Linked DNA regions of Homo sapiens: region 2 is linked to region 1. The links come from fine-mapping of genetic effects on plasma protein levels. A gene starts in region 1. The other region holds a variant in brackets. All regions are shown on one strand. Distances are between the middles of the regions.

Region 1 (10,153 bases):
GTGAATCTGTGTAACAGAGCACTAATGTGTGTAATTACTTACACCTTTTATAAATTGGAGGAGGTCTGTGCTATCACTATAACAATTCTTGGCCAGGGAATGGTCACCTCTCTGGACCAGGAAGAGTTCCACACTGGATTTTTGCTGGAACTAGAGGGAAAGGAAGCTGGGCTGACTGAGCACAGTTCTGGGGATACCTGTGGCCATACATGGGGCTTCAAGGGGAGAGAGTGTCTGAGAGTGATGCCACACAGAGGAAAGGAAAGCCGAGAGATGCAGACAGACCCTGCTTCCCCGCAGTTTCTGGCCTTCCTTGCTGATGACGGTGGGTGCTGTGGGATGCCTTGCAGCTCCTCATTAAGGACAAAGAAGGGGCTCCCAGCTCTTGGGACTGCTGCCGGTGGGCGGTGCTCAGCTGTCATCCGTCTTTGGAACTGCCTCTGCTGATGACAGCTAACTCTCCCACGTCACGCCCCTTCCCAGGACAGCCAATAGCCCATGACATGTTGGCCTGGAGGTCTAACTTCCAGGCCTCTTTGCCCCAACTCAGGACAGCTCTGCAGAGTCATCTTAGCTTCAGAGGAGCTCCCCGCAGGGCTGGCTGAGCTCTTTACTACAACTGCATCATGGTTCAGTTGCCCTCTGCCCCATCCTGCTGCTGCAATCATCAGCCTGTTCCTAATATTATCAGCAGGGGGGAGAAAATACAGCTAGTTTCCTAGGAGAGAGGACCCCTGGAACATGAGGTGGAGCAGATGGGTGGAATCGTGGAAATAGAGCATGGGGTTATAAGGAGCCTCAAGGGGCCACCAGGTCCAGAACAGGAAGGGAAGAACTTCAAAATCTTGCCACCTGAGGAGCAGCTGGAGGAGCTGAAAATATTTAACTGGAGAAGTAAAGATGTATGGGGAATATGACAGCGGGCTTCACATATTTGACTGTAAATCAAGTAGAGGTTAGGTCAGACTCCTTCTGCTGGGTCTCCTGGCTTCTGCTCTTGACCACCTACGGTCCATTCTCACACCGTTTAGTAAGTCATGTCGCTCCCCAGCTTAAAACCCTCCCATCTTCTTTTTTTCTTGAGACAGAGTCTCGCTCTGTCACCCAGGCTGGAGTGCAGTGGCGCGATCTCAGCTCACTGCAAGCTCCGCCTCCCGGATTCATGCCATTCTCCTGCCTCAGCTTCCCAAGTAGCTGGGACTACAGGTGCCCGCCACCACGCCAGGCTAATTTTTTTGTATTTTTAGTAGAGACGGGGTTTCACCACGTTAGCCAGGATAGTCTCAATCTCCTGACCTCGTGATCCGCCTGCCTCGGCCTCCCAAAGTGCTGGGATTACAGGCGTGAGCCACTGCACCTGGCCTCCCCTGTCTTCTGGCTGCATGAATAGAACCTGAGCGACTTGCTGTGAGGCCTTTCATAATCTGCCCTCGTCTCTCTTTCCAACTTTATCTCCTGTGGTTCTTCCCTCACTTGCCCTTCAGGCCACACTGGCCTTCTCCCAGCTGATCCTTGAATGCACCAGGGTCTTTGCACCTGCCGTAGCCTTGCTTGTTCTTCTGTATGTTCCTCTATGAGCTCTTCATTTGCCCCATTCCTTTCTGTTGTTCAGTCTCTGATCAAAAGTCATTTCATAAGAAAGGCTTTGAGTTTTTACCTCATCCTGCTTTACAGTCTTCATAGCACTCTGCTCCCTGAAACAGTTTTGTGTCTTTGTTGGTTAAATGATTTTTTTTCTTATCTCCCCCACAAAGAATATAAACCTAAAGTGGACTGAGCTGTGTCTGTCCTGTTCACCACTGCAACCTCAGGGTGTGGTATGGTTTTGGCATACAGCAGGTGTTCAAAAACTATGTGTTGAGTGAAAGAATGAATGAACATGAGCCCAGAAATAGCTCTAGAGTCCAGAGAGCTGCCGTAGGCGGGCTCAGAGCCTTGCCTGTCCCTGGAGGCATGACGTGGAGGGAAACTGCCACTTAGGAAAGAACCAGCAAGTCAGTGGGAATATGGGGTTTGGAATCAGACAGATGAGGGTTTGAGTCTTTGTTCTGTCACTTCCTGCCTGGCTGCAGGCCTTGGACAGGTTATTTGACCTTGTTGGCCGGGCGTGGTGGCTCACATCTGTAATTCCAGCCCTTTGGGAGGCCGAGGCGGGCAGATTACCTGAGGTTGGGAGTTTGAGACCAGCCTGACCAACATGGTGAAATCCCATCTCTACTAAAAATACAAAAATTGGGCCAAGCACAGTGGCTCACGCCTGTAATCTCAGCACTTTGGGAGGCTGAGGTGGGTGGATCACGAGGTCAGGAGATTGAGACCATCCTGGCTAACACAGTGAAACCCCATCTCTACTAAAAATACAAAAAATTAGCTGGGCGAAGTGGCGGGGGCCTGTAGTCCCAGCTACTCAGGAGGCTGAGGCAGGAGAATGGTGTGAACCTGGGAGGCGGAGCTTGCAGTGAGCCGAGATCATGCCACTGCACTCCAGCCTGGACGACAGAGTGAGACTCTATCTCAAAAAAAAAAAAAAGAAAAGAAAAGAAAAGGAAAAGAAAGAAAAGCCTCAGTCCCTTCATCTGTAAAGACAGGGGTTTGATTAGAAGCCACCCCAGAGTGGTTCTGGATTGATTAAAGGCTGCTTCTGAAGCCCTGGGCAAGTGCCACACCCTTAGCAAGTGCTAAATAGATGTTTGCTGTTTAGTTTCCACACCAGGCCCCCGGGGCCACAGGAGCTGGGGGAGGTGTTTAAGGAAGGACCATGCTACTGCAATCCCTCTCACATACACCACTTGGCTTTTGTTTTTCTTTTTGTGTTTTTGTTAGAGACACACTCTCACTCTATTGCCTAGGCTGGAGTGCAGTGCTGTGATCACGGCTCACCGCAGCCTCGACCTCTTGGGCTCAAGTGATCCTCCTCCTTCAGCCTCTCCAGTAGCTGAGACTACAGGCATGCGCCACCACTCCTGGGTAATTTTTAAATTTTTTTAGAGACAGTGTTTTCCTTATGTTGTCCAGGCCGCTTTTAAAATTCCTGGGCTCAAGTGGTCTGTCTGCCTCGGCAACCCAGAGCATTGGGATTACAGGTGTGTGCACTGTGCCTGGCCTGTTTTTCTTTCCTGTGGCACTAACCGCCCCCACAGAGGGGAAAGTAAGCAGTGGAGCCCTGGGTTGAGGGCGGCTGTTGTAGGGGCAGGGACTGTCCACACTGTTACTTCTCCACTGCCCGCCTCCAACATAACCCCATCGTGGGAGCTGGGTGAGGAAATGCATGAGCACTGATTCTTCGCAGGATTTCGAGTGTTACACATGTGGTAATACTGCTCACATCACTTGAATCTGCAATCCCATGTGAAGTTGGAGTATGTGGCAAGAAGCAACTCTGCGAGGGTGGTGGGTGGAGGAGGGAGGGGCCCAACCCACAGGCCAGGAACCCATGTGAGGTGGCCGCCTTCCTCTGTCTCTTGCTAATACCTGGGTGATGGGCTTTATGCATCTTGACCCAGAAAAGAGCGAGTCACAATCGACCAATATGATGGAGGGGATATCACTGCACACCAGGCAAATACAGGCTCAGCTGCCAATTCCCACATCCCTCTAGCCCCTTTTGATGGCCAGGGAACTTTCTTGCTTCTGTTCACATGAAAACAACAGTTGGCCCTACCCATGTAACGAAGCAAACACTTACATACTGTGTACTTACTACATGCTGGGCACTGTTCTTAAACACTACCAGCACTGCCTGTATAATTCTCCCAGCAACCCTATGAGGTGGCTACAATCATTAGCCCCAGTTTACAGATGAGCCAATGGTTGCTTGGTGAGGTTTAGCCAATTGCACAGGCTTGCACAGCCAGTAAGTGGCCAGGCCAGGGTTTGGACCCAAGCCATGCAGCCCCAGAGTCTGTGCACTTCACCACAATGCGACGTGGCCTAGTCCCAAGGGGAATGGCTTGCCTTGTAGGCAATGAGCTGCCCATCATCGTGGGTGACAAGCAGAAGTGACTGAGCTAGACAGGGGTCTCCTCCACGTATTCAGTGTGTCCCCTGTGTGTAGCTCTGAGCTAAGCACTCTGCCAATGCCATCTCATTTCAGCCCGATGACACCACTGCCAGATGGAACCATTATTCCACTATATGGATGAACAAACTGGGTTTACAGAGATTAGGTAACTGGTCCGAGATCTCTGGCTGCTGAGGGCTGGAGCTGGGACTCAAACAAGTTTGCTTAATGCAGATCCCAAGCTCTTCACCTCTTATCAGGGATGGTGTCCAATGAGGGTTGGCTGGACTAGATGACTTTTACGGTCCTAGCCAATCCAAGATCCTGAGGGACTGAGAGTCTGGCAAGTAAAGGGGCACACTCCCCTAGTTACTAGCTCTAGCTCTCCCCTAGTAACTAGTTACTATGCCAAAAATACTAGTCATCACATTTCAGTTCTTTTTTTTTTTTTTGAGATTGAATCTCGCTCTGTTGCCCAGGCTGGAGTGCAGCGGCAGGATCTTGACTCACTGCAACTTCTGTCTCCCGGGTTCAAGCGATTCTCCTGCCTCAGCCTCCTGAGTAGCTGGAATTACAGGTGCACACCACCATGCCCGGCTAATTTTTTATTTTAGTAGAGATGGGTTTCACCATGTTGGCCAGGCTGGTCTTGAACTCCTGACCTCAAGATCTGCCCGCCTCAGCCTCCAGTTTGTTTGTTTTTCTTTTTTTTTTTTTTTTTTGAGATGGAGTTTTGTTCTTGATGCCCAGGCTGGACTGCAATGGTGCCATCTCTGCTCACTGCAATCTCCGCCTCCCAGGTTCAAGCGATTCTCCTGCCTCAGCCTCCTGAGTAGCTGGAATTACAGGCATGCACCACCATGCCCAGCTAATTTTTGTACTTTTAGTAGAGACGGGGTTTCTCCATGTTGGTCAGGCTGGTCTCGAGCTCCCAACCTCAGGTGATCTGCCCGCCTCGGCCTCCCAAAGTGAAGTGCTGGGATTACAGGTGTGAGCCAGTGAGCCGGGCCTATTTGAGTTTTTATGTTTAAGGATGTATTTCTCTTACTATTTTTTTTAACACAGGGTTTTTCCTGAAAAGTTGCCTGAGGAACAAAGAGTTAAATAAGACCCTTAAAGGATCAACTCTCTTTGCCAGGCATCTAAGTCCCCTCTGGGGCTTTGAGGAGACAGTCGCTGTCTTTCCTGGTGGTACCACCACCTTCCTTCATTCAACGCCGCCGCATCTGACAACCCTGGGCACAGGAATCTGCACCCCAGGTCTCCACGGTGAATCCAGCAGTCAATTTTCAGAGCTTGTCCTGCCTGCCCCATCCACACCGCTTGGCACATGGGTCAGCCCGCCTTTACTTACCTTCTTCATCTGGCTTCCCGGATGTCACATCTCTTGGTTTTTGGTTGGTTTTTCCAGTTGGCTTTTCCAATTTATACCTGCAGCATGGATCTCTCCTCTGAACTCCAGATACATAAATCTGTCTATTTGACATTGCCTTGGATGTCTAGAAGGCATTTCAAACTTAGCAGGTCCCACACTTAGCTCCTAATTGTCAGTCCTGCCTCCAGCACACGCCCCTCTCGGTGTTCCCCATCGCAGTCGAGGACAACTGCATTCTTCTAGTTTCTCAGGCCTCAAACCTTAGAATCATCCGAGACTCCTGTCTCTCACATATCTCATCTGTCAACGAATCCCATCAGCTCTACCTTCAAAATATGTCCAGAATCCACCACCTCCACTGCTAACACCTGGCTCACTATCTCCTAGTAACCTGGAGGGCACTGTCTTCAGTCTGATCTTCACACAGTAGCCGCAGTATGAAGACACAGGGTAGACCATGCCTCTCTTCTTCTCCAAACTCTCCAGTGGGTTCCTCCTAGTCAAAGTCAAACCTCACTTGGCCCTCTAGACCTCACCTCTGCATCCTCCCGCTGGCCTTATCTCCTCCACCTCTGACCCTTGCTAGCTCTATTTCAGCTCCACCGGTCTCCTGGCCATTCCCTGAACCTGAAACATGGTCTCCTACCCCAGGGCCTGTGCACTGGCTCTCCCGGTGAGGAAACCGCTCTCCTTCCCATCTCCACCGGCGCGTTGCATCCTTCACCTCTTTGCTCACATATCCCTTTCTCAGAGAAGCTTTTACTGAGGCCTCTGCTCACCCTCTTCTCCCCTCCACATTCCGTGTCTTCCTTTTCTATTTCGTTTCTCTCTATGGTACTTATGGCTTATGTAACAAACTAATCTATTGTTTATATATTTATTTTTACTGTTTCTCTGTGAAAACGTACACTCGAAAAGGGCAGGAGTTTTGTCTGTTTGGATCAGGCTCCACCCCTGGAAGGTAGGACAGTGTTCAGCACAGCAGGTGCTCAATAGGTGTTGTTTCGTGAATCAGCACATCAATTGCAGCATTGTGGCTACCAGGGGGTCAGGATGCGGGCGGTGGAGCCCTCTGGCCTTTGTGTGGTAGCCGAGGACTCTGTGTCAGCGACCGTTTTCCGGGAAACTTCCGGGCGAGACTCACATCTTGGAAATTCAAATACTCAATAGCTCTCGAATTCTAGGAATCTTGAGAAGAGGCCTGGATTAAGGATTCAGACGTGGGCCCTCAGATGGGTGAGAAACGGGGACTCTGTGTCTCCTAGCGGGGACAGAAGGGCCAGGTGACAGGCCAGGCAGAGTGGACGGGGCTTGGGCAGGGGGCGGGGGCAGGCAGCCACACGGGGCAGGAGCTGCAGAGCTAAAGCCAGGCCATGTGGACTGGCTGCGGGTTTCGCTGCCTAGCTGGTGGCATTGAGCAAGTTACTTAACCTTTCTGAACTTCCGTTTTATGATTTTGGAGGAAACAGTCATAGCTTTCTCTCTGGCAGAGTCCGATGGCCCGAGTCCCGCTCCACAGTGCGGGTGGAGGGCACGGAGGGGTGTGTGTGGGGGGCGACAGCCCAGGAAGACTAGGGGGCGGCAGGGCGCGTGGGGGCGGGGGTTGGGAGACCGCAGGGAGGATCCCCGACCTTGTCTGAAGATCCAAGCAGGCGGAGCCGCGGTCTGGTCCGCGGGGTAGGCGGGGCGCAAGAGTGTTCCCGGGGGCGGGGGGCCGACCCGCGTCTAAAGGTTTCCGCGATTCACCCGCCGGCGCCTGGCCTGGCCCAGTTGCACCACGAGCGCTGCGGACACTCGGGGCGGCAGTCGGTCTGTCAGTCCTCCCGCCAGGTCCCGCGGCCCGCACCTGCCGCCCGCACCTGCAGCTCCGCACCTGCGGCCAGTGCCTACTGCCCTCTCTTGCCGCCCGCACCTGCAGCCCCGCACCTGCCGCTTGCACCTGCAGCCCCGCGCTCTACCCGGTTCAAGCATGGCTGACCAGGCGCCCTTCGACACGGACGTCAACACCCTGACCCGCTTCGTCATGGAGGAGGGCAGGAAGGCCCGCGGCACGGGCGAGTTGACCCAGCTGCTCAACTCGCTCTGCACAGCAGTCAAAGCCATCTCTTCGGCGGTGCGCAAGGCGGGCATCGCGCACCTGTGAGTCGGGCCTTGGGCGGTGGGCCCCGTCCTGTCTGTCTGCCTGGGGAGCCTGCCCGGCGGGCTGACGTTGGGCCCTCTGAGCCTCCTGCCGTCAGCCTCTGTCTGTCCGTCTGATGTCTGAGCGCCTCTCTCGCTCTCTGTCTGGTAGCCCCTCTCTCCAGAAGCTGGCTCAGCCTCACTCAAGTCCTCATCTCCTCCCTTGACCTTGGAGGGGCCCACCTGGGGGTCCGTCTCACAGGTGTACACCTGATTCCATCTTGCATTCCTCTTCTCTGCCCTGAGCAGCCTGCCTCGTACCCCTCTCAGCCGGCCAAGTGTGGGCACCTGGCCTGCCCGTCATACCCGCCCTAGCCTCAGACAGGAAAGTGCTAGCTCAGGTGCCTTCCTTCCCCATTTCTTCTTTGTCCTCCTTCACTCTTTCTGCAATTAGGGACCCAAGTCAGGTTTCTAATCCAGTTATCTCTGACCTGAAACAAGACCTGTTAGGAGCGAGTGTCCCCCCCGCCCCCCCCGCAAGCAGGCTGGGAGGTCTCCTGTGTGTCCAGAGCCTTTAGGAGCAGCAGGGCTTGTGTGCAAAGGAGCTCCCGTGGGCTGCCCCTTGCTGGGACAGTTGCCATGCTGTGCCAGAAACAGGAAACACCCAGGGCTTCAAAACCCCTATCGATTTGCAATGATGGTGTGTGCAGCCTCTGCCCAATTAGTGGAAAGCTCAAAAGTGGTTTGTAGAATGGTTCTGAATGCGCTATGGAGTGCATCTCGAACGTCACTGGGCACAGGAATCATTTGGGGATCTTGGTAAGATGTGTGCCCTCCTTCCATAGCTCTGGGACAGGTCCTGAGATTCTGCATTTCTAAGAAGTTCTCCTGTGGTGGGTGCTGCCCATCAGATACTGTTTGTCTACTCATCACATTGTGAGTAGCAAGGGGTCAAGTGGAGTGGAGACTCAAAGGACCCCTTCTTGTGAGGTTTTTTGTAAGTCACACAACATCCTTTCGTTTGTGTTGGTGTGCACAGGTATTTTCTTTTTCTTTTCTTTTTTTTTTTTTTTTTGAGATGGAATTTTGCTCTTGTTGCCCAGGCTGGAGTGCAATGGTGCGATCTTGGCTCACCGCAACCTCTGCCTCCCAGGTTCAAGCGATTCTCCTGCCTCAGTCTCCCGAGTAGCTGGGATTACAGGCATGTGCCACCATGCCCAGCTAATTTTGTAATTTTTTTTAGTAGAAACGGGGTTTCTCCATGTTGGTCAGGCTGGTCTCGAACTCCCGACCTCCGGTGATGCCTTGGCCTCCCAAAGTGCTGGGATTACAGGCATGAGCCGCCGTGCGCAGGTATTTTCTAGCTAACTGATCCACACTTTTAACTGAAGTGTAACTGGGTTTTCAGATTGTCCATACACTTTACTAACATTCCCCGCACTTATGCACACTATAAAAATGACACATGATGGGCTGGGCGCGTAGGCTCTAGCCTGTCATCCCAGCACTTTGGGAGGCCGAAACAGGTGGATTGCCTGAGGTCAGGAGTTCAAGACCAACCTGATCAACATGGTGAAACCCCGTCTCTACCAAAAATTAGCTGGGTGTGGTGGCAGGCGCCTGTAATCCCAGCTACTCGGGAGGCTGAGGAAGGAGAATTGCTTGAACCCAGGAGGCAGAGGTTGCAGTGAGCCGAGATCGCATCATTGCACTCCAGCCTGCGCGACAAGAGCGTGACTTTGTCTTAAAAAAAAAAAAAAAAGACGCATGATGCTCAGAGCTGACCTGAACAAATACAACCCTGCTACTTGGGTTTGGAATGCATTTCTCCATTCTTAAAAACTCTTCTCCGCCCCGCATCCTGCAATCTAGATTCCTTTTCTTACTGGCAGGCTGTCTGGCTTTGGTCCCACAGTATGGACTGGTGGAGGTAATTCATGTAAAGGAGTGGTATGATCACATTTATTTTTGAATATTAAGCAGACATGTTAAGGAAGGTGATGACTCCATTACTGTTGCCTCTGGCCCCTCTTAATAATACATTCCTAAGGATTCTTATTTTAGAAACATACCCAGGTGAAATCTTAAGCTTTAATTTACAGCTAGTATAGGTGGCTCACAGCTTTAACTGCCTTTGAGGACCAGGGATATATTTTAAAAAGAGGGCTTGTCGACTGGGTGTGGTGGCTCACACCTGTAATCCCAGCACTTTGGGAGGCTGAGACGGGTAGATCACTCAAAGTCCAGGTGTTTGAGACCAGCCTGGCCAACATGGTGAAACCCTGTCTCTACTAAAAACACAAAAATTAGCCAGGCATGGTGGCAGGCGCCTGTAATCCCAGCTACTTGGGAGGCTGAGGCAGGAGAATTGCTTGAACCCGGGAGGCGGAGGTTGCAGTGAGCCCAGATCGTGCCACTCTACTCCAGCCTGGCGACCGAGTAAGACTCTGTCTCAAAAAAAGAAAAAAAAGGGCTTGTCATGTCTGATATTGTTTAAAAAATGTGTCAGTACCTTTCACACCCCTAGAGAGACTGAGAAATGTAAGATGTGTTTTGAGGTGTCCCACTGTCTAAGTAACCTTAGACAGTGGGACCTTGGATAGTGAGATTTTGATGGTGGGGCCTGGATGAAGCATGTTAATTTTGGCTACGTAAGGTAT
Region 2 (10,304 bases), 18 kb after region 1:
TTGGATATATGGAAACCAAATATCCGGGTCTCTGGAACAGTGCAATTTAAAAGCATGTCCTAGAATTTTCAGCCGTGGTTTGAAAGCCACCTATTGATTCACACATGCCTGGAAGTAGCTGACATTTGTGCAACACTGTGCCCTGATTCGGCTGGGGCTCTGGGGTTCTATGCAGCCCGTTTGGCCTCCTTGCTGTGAGGTGCGGGGCATTTAAATTCTGTTGCCAACAGTAGCGGCCAGTGGTGCTCTGGCCTCAGCAGGTGCCCTGTTCTCTTGTTTGCTGCCTGCTACTTCTCAAGGAAGGCCTCAAGCCACTTTGCTCCTTATGCTCTGACATTTCTCCTCTTAGGCCCAATACAGAAAAGGTGGAGAAAACCTCACAATGTTGCCTTTCCCCTCTATGATAAATTTTTTTTTTTTTTTTGAGACAGAGTCTCTGTGGCCCGTTCTAGAGTGCAGTGGTGTGACCTTGGCTCACTGCAACCTTTGCCTCCTGGGTTCAAGCAATTCTTGTGCCTCGGCCTTCCAAGTAGCTGGGATTGTAGGCATGTGCCACCACACCTGGCTAATTTTTGTATTTTTAGTAGAGGTGGGCTTTGACCATGTTGGCAGGCTGGTCTCGAACTCCTGTCCTCAAGTGATCCACATGCCTTGGCCTCCCAAAATGTTGGGATCACAGGCATGAGCCACTGTGTCTGGCCACCTCTGTGATAACTTTTATTCAGAAAACATTTCCTTGGCAGATCAAGTCACTGGCTCAATCAAAATTGCCCTTCCTGCCCCTGCATGATCAGCCCCCAACTGCTACTGTTGACTCCTTTTCTGGCAGTGGGGCTGAGGGGCAGAGCAGGGGAGGGAGGTAGGGGAAGGGAGCTAGGCCTGGAGGTTTACATCTGGCTCAGTTCAGCCCATGTCTTGGCCATTTCACCTGTTCCTCTCCTTTAATTGTAAGGCACAGTTGGCCTGGGGAGGGCTTTTTTGGACAGGGTCGTGTGATGGTTTCCCATATCCCTCCAGCCTCATTTGCTGCCTTTTCCCATCCCTAGAGAATGGCAAATTGGGAGCTGATCTAGAAGGGAGCTGGGTGGTGTGTGCAAGGCTCCAGTCGAGTCCCACGGAGGGTAGTTGGTGTCATCACCTCTGGTTCACAGCTGCCTCCTGGAAACGCCTTCCAAGGCAGGATGGTCTTCTGGATCCACTGGGCTCTCCTGGAGTCTTCCTAGAACTTCAGACGGGGGATGGCAGCCGCTGCATTCGCTAGGGCTCAGGGCTGTCTCACCAGGAGCTGAGACCCACACCTGCTATTGACTCTAGGCTGCTGAGCCCGCCCTCTCTAGGTGGTGATTGGAATATAGAGTGAATGCTCTTGTTAATCTATCCTTCAGGGCCATTCAGGAATGATGACTGATCAGCAGGCAGACATTTATAATTTCTTTTCTTTTTCTTTCTGAGGTGGAATTTCACTCTTTTTTGCCCAGGCTGGAGTGCAGTGGTGTGATCTCGGCTCACTGCAACCTCCGCCTCCCGGGTTCAGGTGACTCTCCTATCTCAGCCTCCCTACTAGCTGGGATTACAGGCGCCCGCCACCACGCCCGGCTAATTTTTTTTTTTTTTTTTGAGATGGAGTTTCACTCTTGTTGCCCAGGCTGGAGTGCAATTGCGTGATCTCAGCTTACTGCAACCTCTGCCTCCCGGGTTCAAGCGATTCTCCTGCCTCAGCCTCCTGAGTAGCTGGGATTACAGGCACATGCCACCATACCCAGCTAAGTTTGTATTTTTAGTAGAGACAGGGTTTCTCCATGTTGGTCAGGCTGGTCTTGAACTCCCAGCCTCAGGTGATCCACCTGCCTCAGCCTCCCAAAGTGTTGGGATTACAGGTGTGAGCCACTGCGACTGGCCAATTTTTGTATTTTTAGTAGAGATGGGATTTCACCATGTTGGCCAGGCTGGTCTCGAAATCCTGAACCTCAGGTAATCCGCCTGCCTTAGCTTCCCAAAGTGCTGAGATTACAGGTGTGAGCCACTGTGCCTGGCCAGACATTTAGTATTTCTAAGGGGGCTTCTGAAAACTTATGGAGAAAATAAACTGCATGTGATCTTCAGCTAATTAAGTCCTTGAGCTTGTTTCTGAGGAATTTTTCCTCTCTCAGAATCACGGAAGCCTTGCCTGCTTGCCACTTTTCATTGACCTGTGTAAATGTGTTACTCGGGGAAATCTCAAGCCCTTCTTAGGGTCCCCGAGGTGTGACGGGGGAGGCTTGATGGAGCCTGCGTCTGGTCCTGACTGCTCATCATGGCTGTGCAGCCCTGACAGGACTAAGCCAGGGTGGTGGGACCAGCACGGTGTGGCCAGCTTAACTCACTGCGGCTCAGAGGAGACCTGGAGACATGAGGGACACCTGGACATTGTTGCTATCAACATGGCAGCATAGTTGGCTGGCAGCCGGGGGAATTTATTCTCTTGACCCACTGTTTCTACCTTAGGATCCTTTTCCTGTGCTTTTCTGGAAGCTTTTCCTAACGCCAGGATTAACCAGGAGAAGCCTTCCCTCAAGATATCTTAGCAAAGTTATAAAGTACGTGAACATTGAGTTGGAGCAGCCCAGAGTAATCTATCTTCATGTGTTCTCTTACACTTCAAAGACAACTGGAGGATAGCTGGAGAAGGGTCCTTCCTGCTAGAAGAGGGGAAGGACGCTTACTGGGGGTAAAGAGAAGAGGCGTTCCCAAGAAAGGGGCAGGAACCAGCTTAACGCATCTGTCACCACCCAGCGGGGTCATGGAAACGCGAAGCAGGTGGAGCCCATTTCCTGCCGTGGTTTGGTGGACGCAGGCAGCCCCATCCATGCAGGTGCTAAAGGCCCTGTGTGGCTTGGTGGATGCAGGCAGCCCTGTCCATGGAGGTGCTGAGGGTCCTGCGTGATTTGGTGGATGCGGGCGGCCCTGTCCTTGCAGGTGGTGAGGGTCCTGCGTGGTTTGGTGGACGCGGGCAGCTCCGTCATTCTTTCTTTTTGACGGAGTCTCGCTCTGTCGCCCAGGCTGGAGCGCAGGGGCGCCATCTGGGCTCACTGCAAGCTCCACTTCCCGGGTTCACGCCTTTCTCCTGCCTCAGCCTCCCGAGTAGCTGGGACCACAGGCGCCTGCCACCGTCCCCGGCTAATTTTTTGTATTTTTAGTAGAGACGGGGTTTCACTGTGTTAGCCAGGATGGTCTCGATCTCCTGACCTCGTGATCCGCTCGCCTCGGCCTCCCAAAGTGCTGGGATTACAGGCGTGAGCCACTGTGCCCGGCCCCAGCCCTGTCAGTTCTGTGGCGAGGGCCTGCATGGCTTGGTGGATGCGGGCAGCCCCGTCAGTTCTGTGGTGAGAGCCCCGCATGGCTTGGTGGATGCGGGCCGCCCTGTCCATGCAGGTGCTGAGGACCCTGTGCCATGCGTCCTTGCAGAGTGCTGTGTGGCCCCACAAGCCTACCATCGTGAACGGTGTACCACCCCTTCTGTGGCCCTCAGCTTCTCTGTGTTGGTTCCTCTGTGTGCCAAGGGTAGGAGCCATCTGAGACTCTTGGAATGGCAGTGGGGAGGGCTGGCTGGTGGTCATGATTTGCTAAGTCACCCACCCTGACACTGACTGTAACCTCTCGTAGGTCTGGGCATGATCTGGGGCAACAGAAGTTGCTTCTCACTTTAATCTGGCCAACTGCTGAGTCTGCAAGCTCGGAAAATGCAGTCCACTGCATGAGGAAATAGCCTACTTTCATTTAATCCCACAAAACAAGTCACGGTGCCCCTGTGTTTGGGACACAGTTACAGGATAACTTGTCTGTCTCTGGGTGGTGGGGCTGGCCCAGGAGTACTGCAAATCAGAGCCATCCTTACAAGGACTTTCTCCCTCCGGTCTCCTCTCTCTGAATTTAGATGCTTCCTGGATCCAGGCATCACAGGAAAAAGACCTCAGGCTTTACAAAATTACTTGTATAAATGTGCACATAGTACCCACTCCCTTCCATTTGGAAATATGTGAAAAATGTACTTACTGTTTCCTTTGGCTAAATTGCTAACAAACAGCTCTTCTCTGGAGTCATTACTAGCTGACTTATTTGGGCTTCTTTAGGGCTTTTTCATTTCCTCCCATTCTTTCTTTTTTTTATTTTTTTGAGACAGCGTTTCGCTCTTGTTGCCCAGGCTGGAGTGCAATGGTGCGATCTCGGCTCACTGCAACCTCCGCCTCCTGGGTTCAAGGGATTCTCCTGCCTCAGCTTCCCAAGTAGCTGGGATTACAGACATGTGCCACCACGCCCAGCTAATTTTTATGTATTTAGTAGAGATAGGACTTCACCATATTGGTCAGGCTGGTCTCAATTTTCTGACCTCAGGGGATCCACCCGCCTTGGCCTCCCAAAGTGCTGGGATTACAGGCGTGAGCCACCGTGCCTGGCCCATTTCCTCCTGTTCTTTTTTTTTTTTTTTTTTGAGATGGAGTCTCGCTTTGTCGCCCAGGCTGGAGTGCAGTGACGCAATCTCGGCTCACTGCAAGCTCCGCCTCCCGGGTTCACGCCATTCTTCTGCCTCAGCCTCCTGAGTAGCTGGGACTACAGGTGCCCGCCACCATGCCCGGCTAATTTTTTGTGTTTTTAGTAGAGAGAGGGCTTCACCATGTTGATCAGGCTGGTCTCGATCTCCTGACCTCAGGTGGATCCACCCACCTCGGCCTCCCAAAGTGCTGGGATTACAGGCATGAGCCACCGTGCCCGGCCTATTTCCTCCCATTCTTACGAAAAACATTCAAAGTACCATTCAGCTTGAATGCCCCCCTAGAGATCTTCCTGACCATCTAAATTAACCATCTAGCCTCTCATCTCCCTCTCCTGTCACCTTGTTTTTGTTTTATGTCAGCGAGCATCTGTCACTATCTGACATATCTTTTTCATTCCAAAACACTTATTTATTTCTTGTTTGTGCTCACCCCAGTAGAATATACGCTCCACAAGGGCGGGATCTGATCTACCGTGTTCGGCACTGTAACCCCAGCATCTAGAACGGTTCCCCGTGCACAGCAGGTCCCTGGTGAATATTTGTAGAATAAATGAGCACTCAGATAGCTGTCTAGGAAGATTTTGAGTAAAAGAGACCACATGGCCTGAGTGTTCCTGAGGGAAGTGCCTGAGCAGATGGGACTTGGGCCAAAAGGTAATATAGGACTTTCCTTCTGCACCTGCCTCAGTGCCTCATCCGTGTCCAGTGCCTTCGGCCCCTCTGCCCAGCCCTCCCGGCCCCCCGAGCTGTCCCTGTCAGGCTGCACCTATTAGTGCTAGGCCTTTTGTGTATGTCATCTCATGCAATCCTCTGACAGCCGCGTGGGGGCAGACTTCACTTCCCTCTTTGGACACATGTGAAAGGGAGGGAGGCTCAGAAAGAGCAGGGGAGCCTGGGAGCTGAGGCCTGGACCTGGTCTCTGCCTTGAAGCCCTTCTTCTGGTCCATCGGTGCTATTTGCCCTCCGGAATCAGAAGTGAGTTTGACAGTGGGCTGGGCACGGTGGCTCATGCCTGTAATCCCAGCACTTTGGGAGGCTGAGGTGGGTGGATCACTTGAGGTCAGGAGTTCGAGACCAGCCTGGCCAACATGGTGAAACCCTGTCTGTACTAAAAATACAAAAATTAGCTGGATGTGGTGGCATACGGCTATAGTCCCAGCTACTCAGGAGGGTGAGGCACGAGAATCGCTTGAACCTGGGAGGCGGAGGTTGCAGTGAGCCGAGATCACGCAACTGCACACCAGCCTGGACAACAGAGTGACACTGTCTCCAAAAATAAAAATAAAAATAAAAATAAAAATAATCATAAAGTGACTTTGACAGTGCAACTCTCAGGCTGGAAAGGAGAGAGCACTGCTGCTAGTGGGGTCACTGAGGGAGCTGCATTTGAGCTGGTGGGCCCTGCCAAGTCCCTCTGGCCTCCCAGATTTTGGCTGCCTTCTTCCTGCACAAGCCCCAGCCTCACAATTGGGGTCAGAAAAAGATCATGTGGAAATAGGATCGAAAGCCCAGGGACATGGGGTGGAGCTCAAAGCTCGATAGACATCTTGGTCTTTTACTCATGAAATAGGAGTGATGGGTGAAAAGAGAAGCAGCAGGAGGAGGGCTGGTGGGATGAGATGTGCTTTGCAGGCTGGAAAGGGAATGATGCCAAGAGTGGCTGAAAGACGCTGACAGGCGGGCCCGAGAAGACAGCCGGAGCTAGCTCCTGAGATAGTCAGGCCGGACCAGGCATGTGGGTTTGGATGGTTTCTAGGAGGGGCTCAGTTTTGCCCAGCCAGTCACAGCGAGTTATGTTTTGGGCAAATGCACTTGCAGGAGCTGAAGCAGTCACGGCCACTGGATCAGGGACCGTCAGTTCCCAGGCGAGCGCACATCGCCATCATGGCCAAGGGCGCGGGTGTGCCCTTACCACCCACTTTCAGAGGCTTGCTGGTGTCTTCAAAGACCCATCTTTTCCCCTTCCCACATCAAGGCTCTCGCCTTGCTCTGTGCATCCTTCCTGTGAGACGTCTCCCTCCTTTCTGTGTTCAGGGCAACCCCAGGCTATGACAACCTGCCGCTTCTGTAAGTCTAAGAAGCTAGGCTGCGTTTAGACAAGCCACTGGATTCTGGGAATTCTATAATTACTGACTTGCAGGTTGCTTAAAAATAGTGAAAACTCCAGGATCCCTGCAACTTCCATGCCCTAGGACTCCTGCCAGGGGCCCAGGGTGTCACCAAGAGAGCCCTGGCCTGGGAGTCATAGGCAGGGTCTCGCCTCCACCCTCTGCCTGGGAGTCATAGGCAGCGTCTCACTTCTACCCTCTGCCTGTGTGGAGAAGTCCACAGGAGTCTTGGGTCTGAGTTTTCTCCTCTATGAAATGAGGCAGAGGGGCCGGTTGATGCTTTGTTTCTTTTAGGGTCTTTTTAGTTATAAAGCCATAAACCCCTTGGCTTGGCTCGCAACTCAGGCTACCCCCGACCCAGGCTTCCTTGCTTGCTGGGTCTCTCTATTGATTCGTTTAACCCGTGTGTTTGGGGGCCAACACTGGTTCTTTCTGGGCAAAACCAAAAACACCCGCAAACTTTTTATGTAAAAAGCACTGAGACACATACTGCAATAAACAGATATCTACTATATCTGTAGTATTAAAAATATTTCATGGGGGAGTATGGTTGAGGAAAAAATGTTCTAAAAAGCTCCCTAGGGGAATCATAATGAAAACAAAGTTAAGAAACACTGATTTAACCACAAAAGTGTGCAGGGCACCATGACAGGTTCGAGGTGAAGAGGCAGATGATAGTATCTCCTCCTCTCTAGGGTCTGTCCAGACCTTCCTGCCTTGTTCTCCCAAGCTGATGTCCTCCTTCCTTTCTTCTAAAAATATATATATTTTTAGACGGAATCTTGCTCTGTCGCCCAGGCTGGAGTGCAGTGGTGCGATCTCGGCTCACTGCAAGCTCCACCTCCCGGGTTCACGCCATTCTCCTGCCTCAGCATCCTGAATAGCTGGGACTACAGGCGCCCGCCACCACACCCGGCTAATTTTTTGTATTTTTTTTTTTTTTTTTTTTTTTTGAGACGGAGTCTCGCTCTGTCGCCCAGGCTGGCATGCAGTGGCACGATCTCGGCTCACTGCAAGCTCCGCCTCCTGGGTTCACGCCATTCTCCTGCCTCAGCCTCCCAAGTAGCTGGGACTACAGGCACCCACCACCACACCCGGCTACTTTTTTGTATTTTTTAATAGAGACGGGGTTTCACCATGTTAGCCAGGATGGTCTCGATCCCCTGACCTCATGATCCACCCGCCTCAGCCTCCCAAAGTGCTGGGATTACAGGCGTGAGCCACCACGCCCGGCCCTTTTTTAAAAAAATTATTATTATACTTTAAGTTCTGGGATACACATGCAGAATGCGTAGGTTTGTTACATAGGTATAAACATGCCATGGTGGTTTGCTGCACCCATCAATCTGTCATCTACATTAGGTATTTCTCCTAATGCTCTCCCTCCCCTAGTCCCCAGCTCCCTGAGAGGCCCCAGTGTGTGATGTTCCCCTCCCTGTGTCTATGTGTTCTCATTGTTCAACTCCCATTTATGAGTGAGAACATGTGGTGTTTGGTTTTCTGTTCCTGTATTAGTTTGCTGAGAATGATGGATTCCAGCTTCATCCATGTCCCTGCAAAGGACATGAACTCTTTCTTCTAAATCTTACCGAACACTCACTTTTGGTGGGTTTATGGACTCATCTACATGTTCTGGTGGTCATGGCTTATTTTTTGTGGCTTTTGTTCCCTGTAGCTATGGCATTGCTGGTTCTACCAACGTGACAGGTGATCAAGTTAAGAAGCTGGACGTCCTCTCCAACGACCTGGTTATGAACATGTTAAAGTCATCCTTTGCCA[C/T]GTGTGTTCTCGTGTCAGAAGAAGATAAACACGCCATCATAGTGGAACCGGAGAAAAGGGTGGGTCTGTACTTCCACCATTGAGGGTTTTAATGTAGCCGGTCTTCTTCCCAGCTTCATAATTGACTCCACTTGTTCAGCTGAGCTGGGTTTCTGGGAGTCCCTCTAGATCCCTGCTGTGGTCTTTTCATAGCTTCCACCTCACTGCTGCCATCTCTCGAATCCTCCCTGAGCCACTGTGCAGATGAGTGTTGTGGCTCACGCCGCCTTCTCCCCAGTGGACTCCCACAAACTCATCTCCATTTCTAACTTTTTATTGCCATGTTTAAGGCTCTTCAAACCCTGGCTTCTGTTGGTCACCTCTTGTACTACATCCCTATCCACCAAATTCCTGACCTTCACACTGACCCTCCTGTTGACCTAGACTGCTTGAAACTTCCATCCCTGATGCACGCATTGGAGTCCCTATTGGTCTGTCTCTGCTTCTTTTTTTTTTTTTTTTTTTTTTTTTTTTGAGACAGTGTTTTGCTCTTGTTGCCCAGTCTGGTGTACAGTGGTGTGATCTTGGCTCACTGCAACCTCCGCCTCCTGGGTTCAAGCGATTCTCCTGCCTCAGCCTCCTGAGTAGCTGGGATTACAGGTTCCCGCCACCACACCTGGCTAATTTTTGTATTTTTAGTGGAGATGAGGTTTCACCATGTTGGCCAGGCTGGCCTTGAACTCCTGACCTCAAGTGACCCGCCCACCTTGGCCTCCCAAAGTGCTGGGATTACAGGTGTGAGCCACCACACCTGGCGTTATCTCTGCTTTTTGAGAGCAGAAAATGAATCTTATTTGTCTCTGTGTCCCAGTGTCTAGTGCAATGCCTGGCACATTGGAGGGCCTCAACAACAAATGACTGTTGAAAAAGATTGTTAAATGAAAGAGTATTCCCAGCTTTTATAAAACAACAATTGTAATTAGAAAAAAAAACTTCTGAGATTAGAAGTGCAGTTATATGGGCTTACTATCTTTCCCAGTTTGAGAGGAACTGGGAACATGAAGGAGTAGAATTAGGAAAAAACAATGAGAAGATGAAGAGGCTGCCTGTCCTCACCCTATTAAGAGGGCAGGAGCCACATCTGATGAAGTTGTTTTTCATCATTCCTAAAATAGCCGTACATGCCAGACTTGAAGTTCATGTTTTTCTCAGCTGGGCCTTTCAAGGTCTTTGGCAGCTTTAGGCGTATGGCTTAGATTTGTTGTTTAATATTCTCCATCACTCACGCCGGACTTCTCTTGTCTATCATGGGCCTTCATGATAGGCAGCTTCCTGTGTTCCAGTTTCCAGTTCCTCCTGCATTAGTGAGGGTGGTCTGTGAAGAGCAAGAGGGCAGGGAATCATGTTAATCTGCTACAGACATTTAAAAACGACATTGTAAAGTGGCTAATTTGGAGATGGAAAACTCCCAGTGATGTGCTGGTAAACTGGGTCTCAAAGCAAACAAACAAGTCTCTGATATGTCCACTTGCCTCTGTCAATGGTGTGAATACTCTCCCATCGTTGATTTTAAGCTACCAATGTGATATCACTGAAGGCAGAGTTGGGAAGAGATGTGCACCGTTAGCTCCTGAGAGCCGATACCAGCCAGCTCCTGCACACCACTGAAAATCCCACTCAAAACAGGAATCTGCGGTATTCCCACTACCACTGAAAGTTATCTACTTTGGGAATTACGCTAGAAATTTGTTTTGTTTAGTTTTGTTTTTAGAGACAGGGCCTCATTCTGTCACCCAGACTGGAGTGCACAGTCATGGCTCACTGCAGCCTCGAACTCCTGGCTCAAGTGATACCTCCTGTCTCAGCCTCCTGAGTAGCTGGGACTACAGATGTGCAGCATCATGCCC

What was found. PIP is the chance, under the fine-mapping model, that this variant and not a neighbour inherited with it causes the effect. The UK Biobank Pharma Proteomics Project read protein levels with antibody pairs (Olink). The fine-mapping took linkage between variants from a reference panel, not from the people measured, so its PIPs are less certain.
Region 2: its variant is fine-mapped to the plasma level of the FBP1 protein (UK Biobank, PIP above 0.99). The variant lies in the coding sequence of FBP1. If it changes the protein, the assay may bind it differently, which can mimic a change of level.

What each region holds. Positions count from the first base shown.
Region 1 is chr9:94,636,502-94,646,654 of GRCh38, reverse strand. It overlaps FBP1 (fructose-bisphosphatase 1), which reads left to right and starts at 7,137. Exons shown (of 7, transcript NM_000507.4): 1 at 7,137-7,514. The coding sequence starts at 7,345. RefSeq lists a silencer at 7,004-7,063.
Region 2 is chr9:94,618,502-94,628,805 of GRCh38, reverse strand. It overlaps FBP1 (fructose-bisphosphatase 1), which reads left to right. Exons shown (of 7, transcript NM_000507.4): 2 at 8,315-8,477. Among named protein-coding and RNA genes, the nearest start is that of FBP1, 16 kb to the left of the region's middle. The variant C/T (reference allele first, on the strand shown) is at 8,419.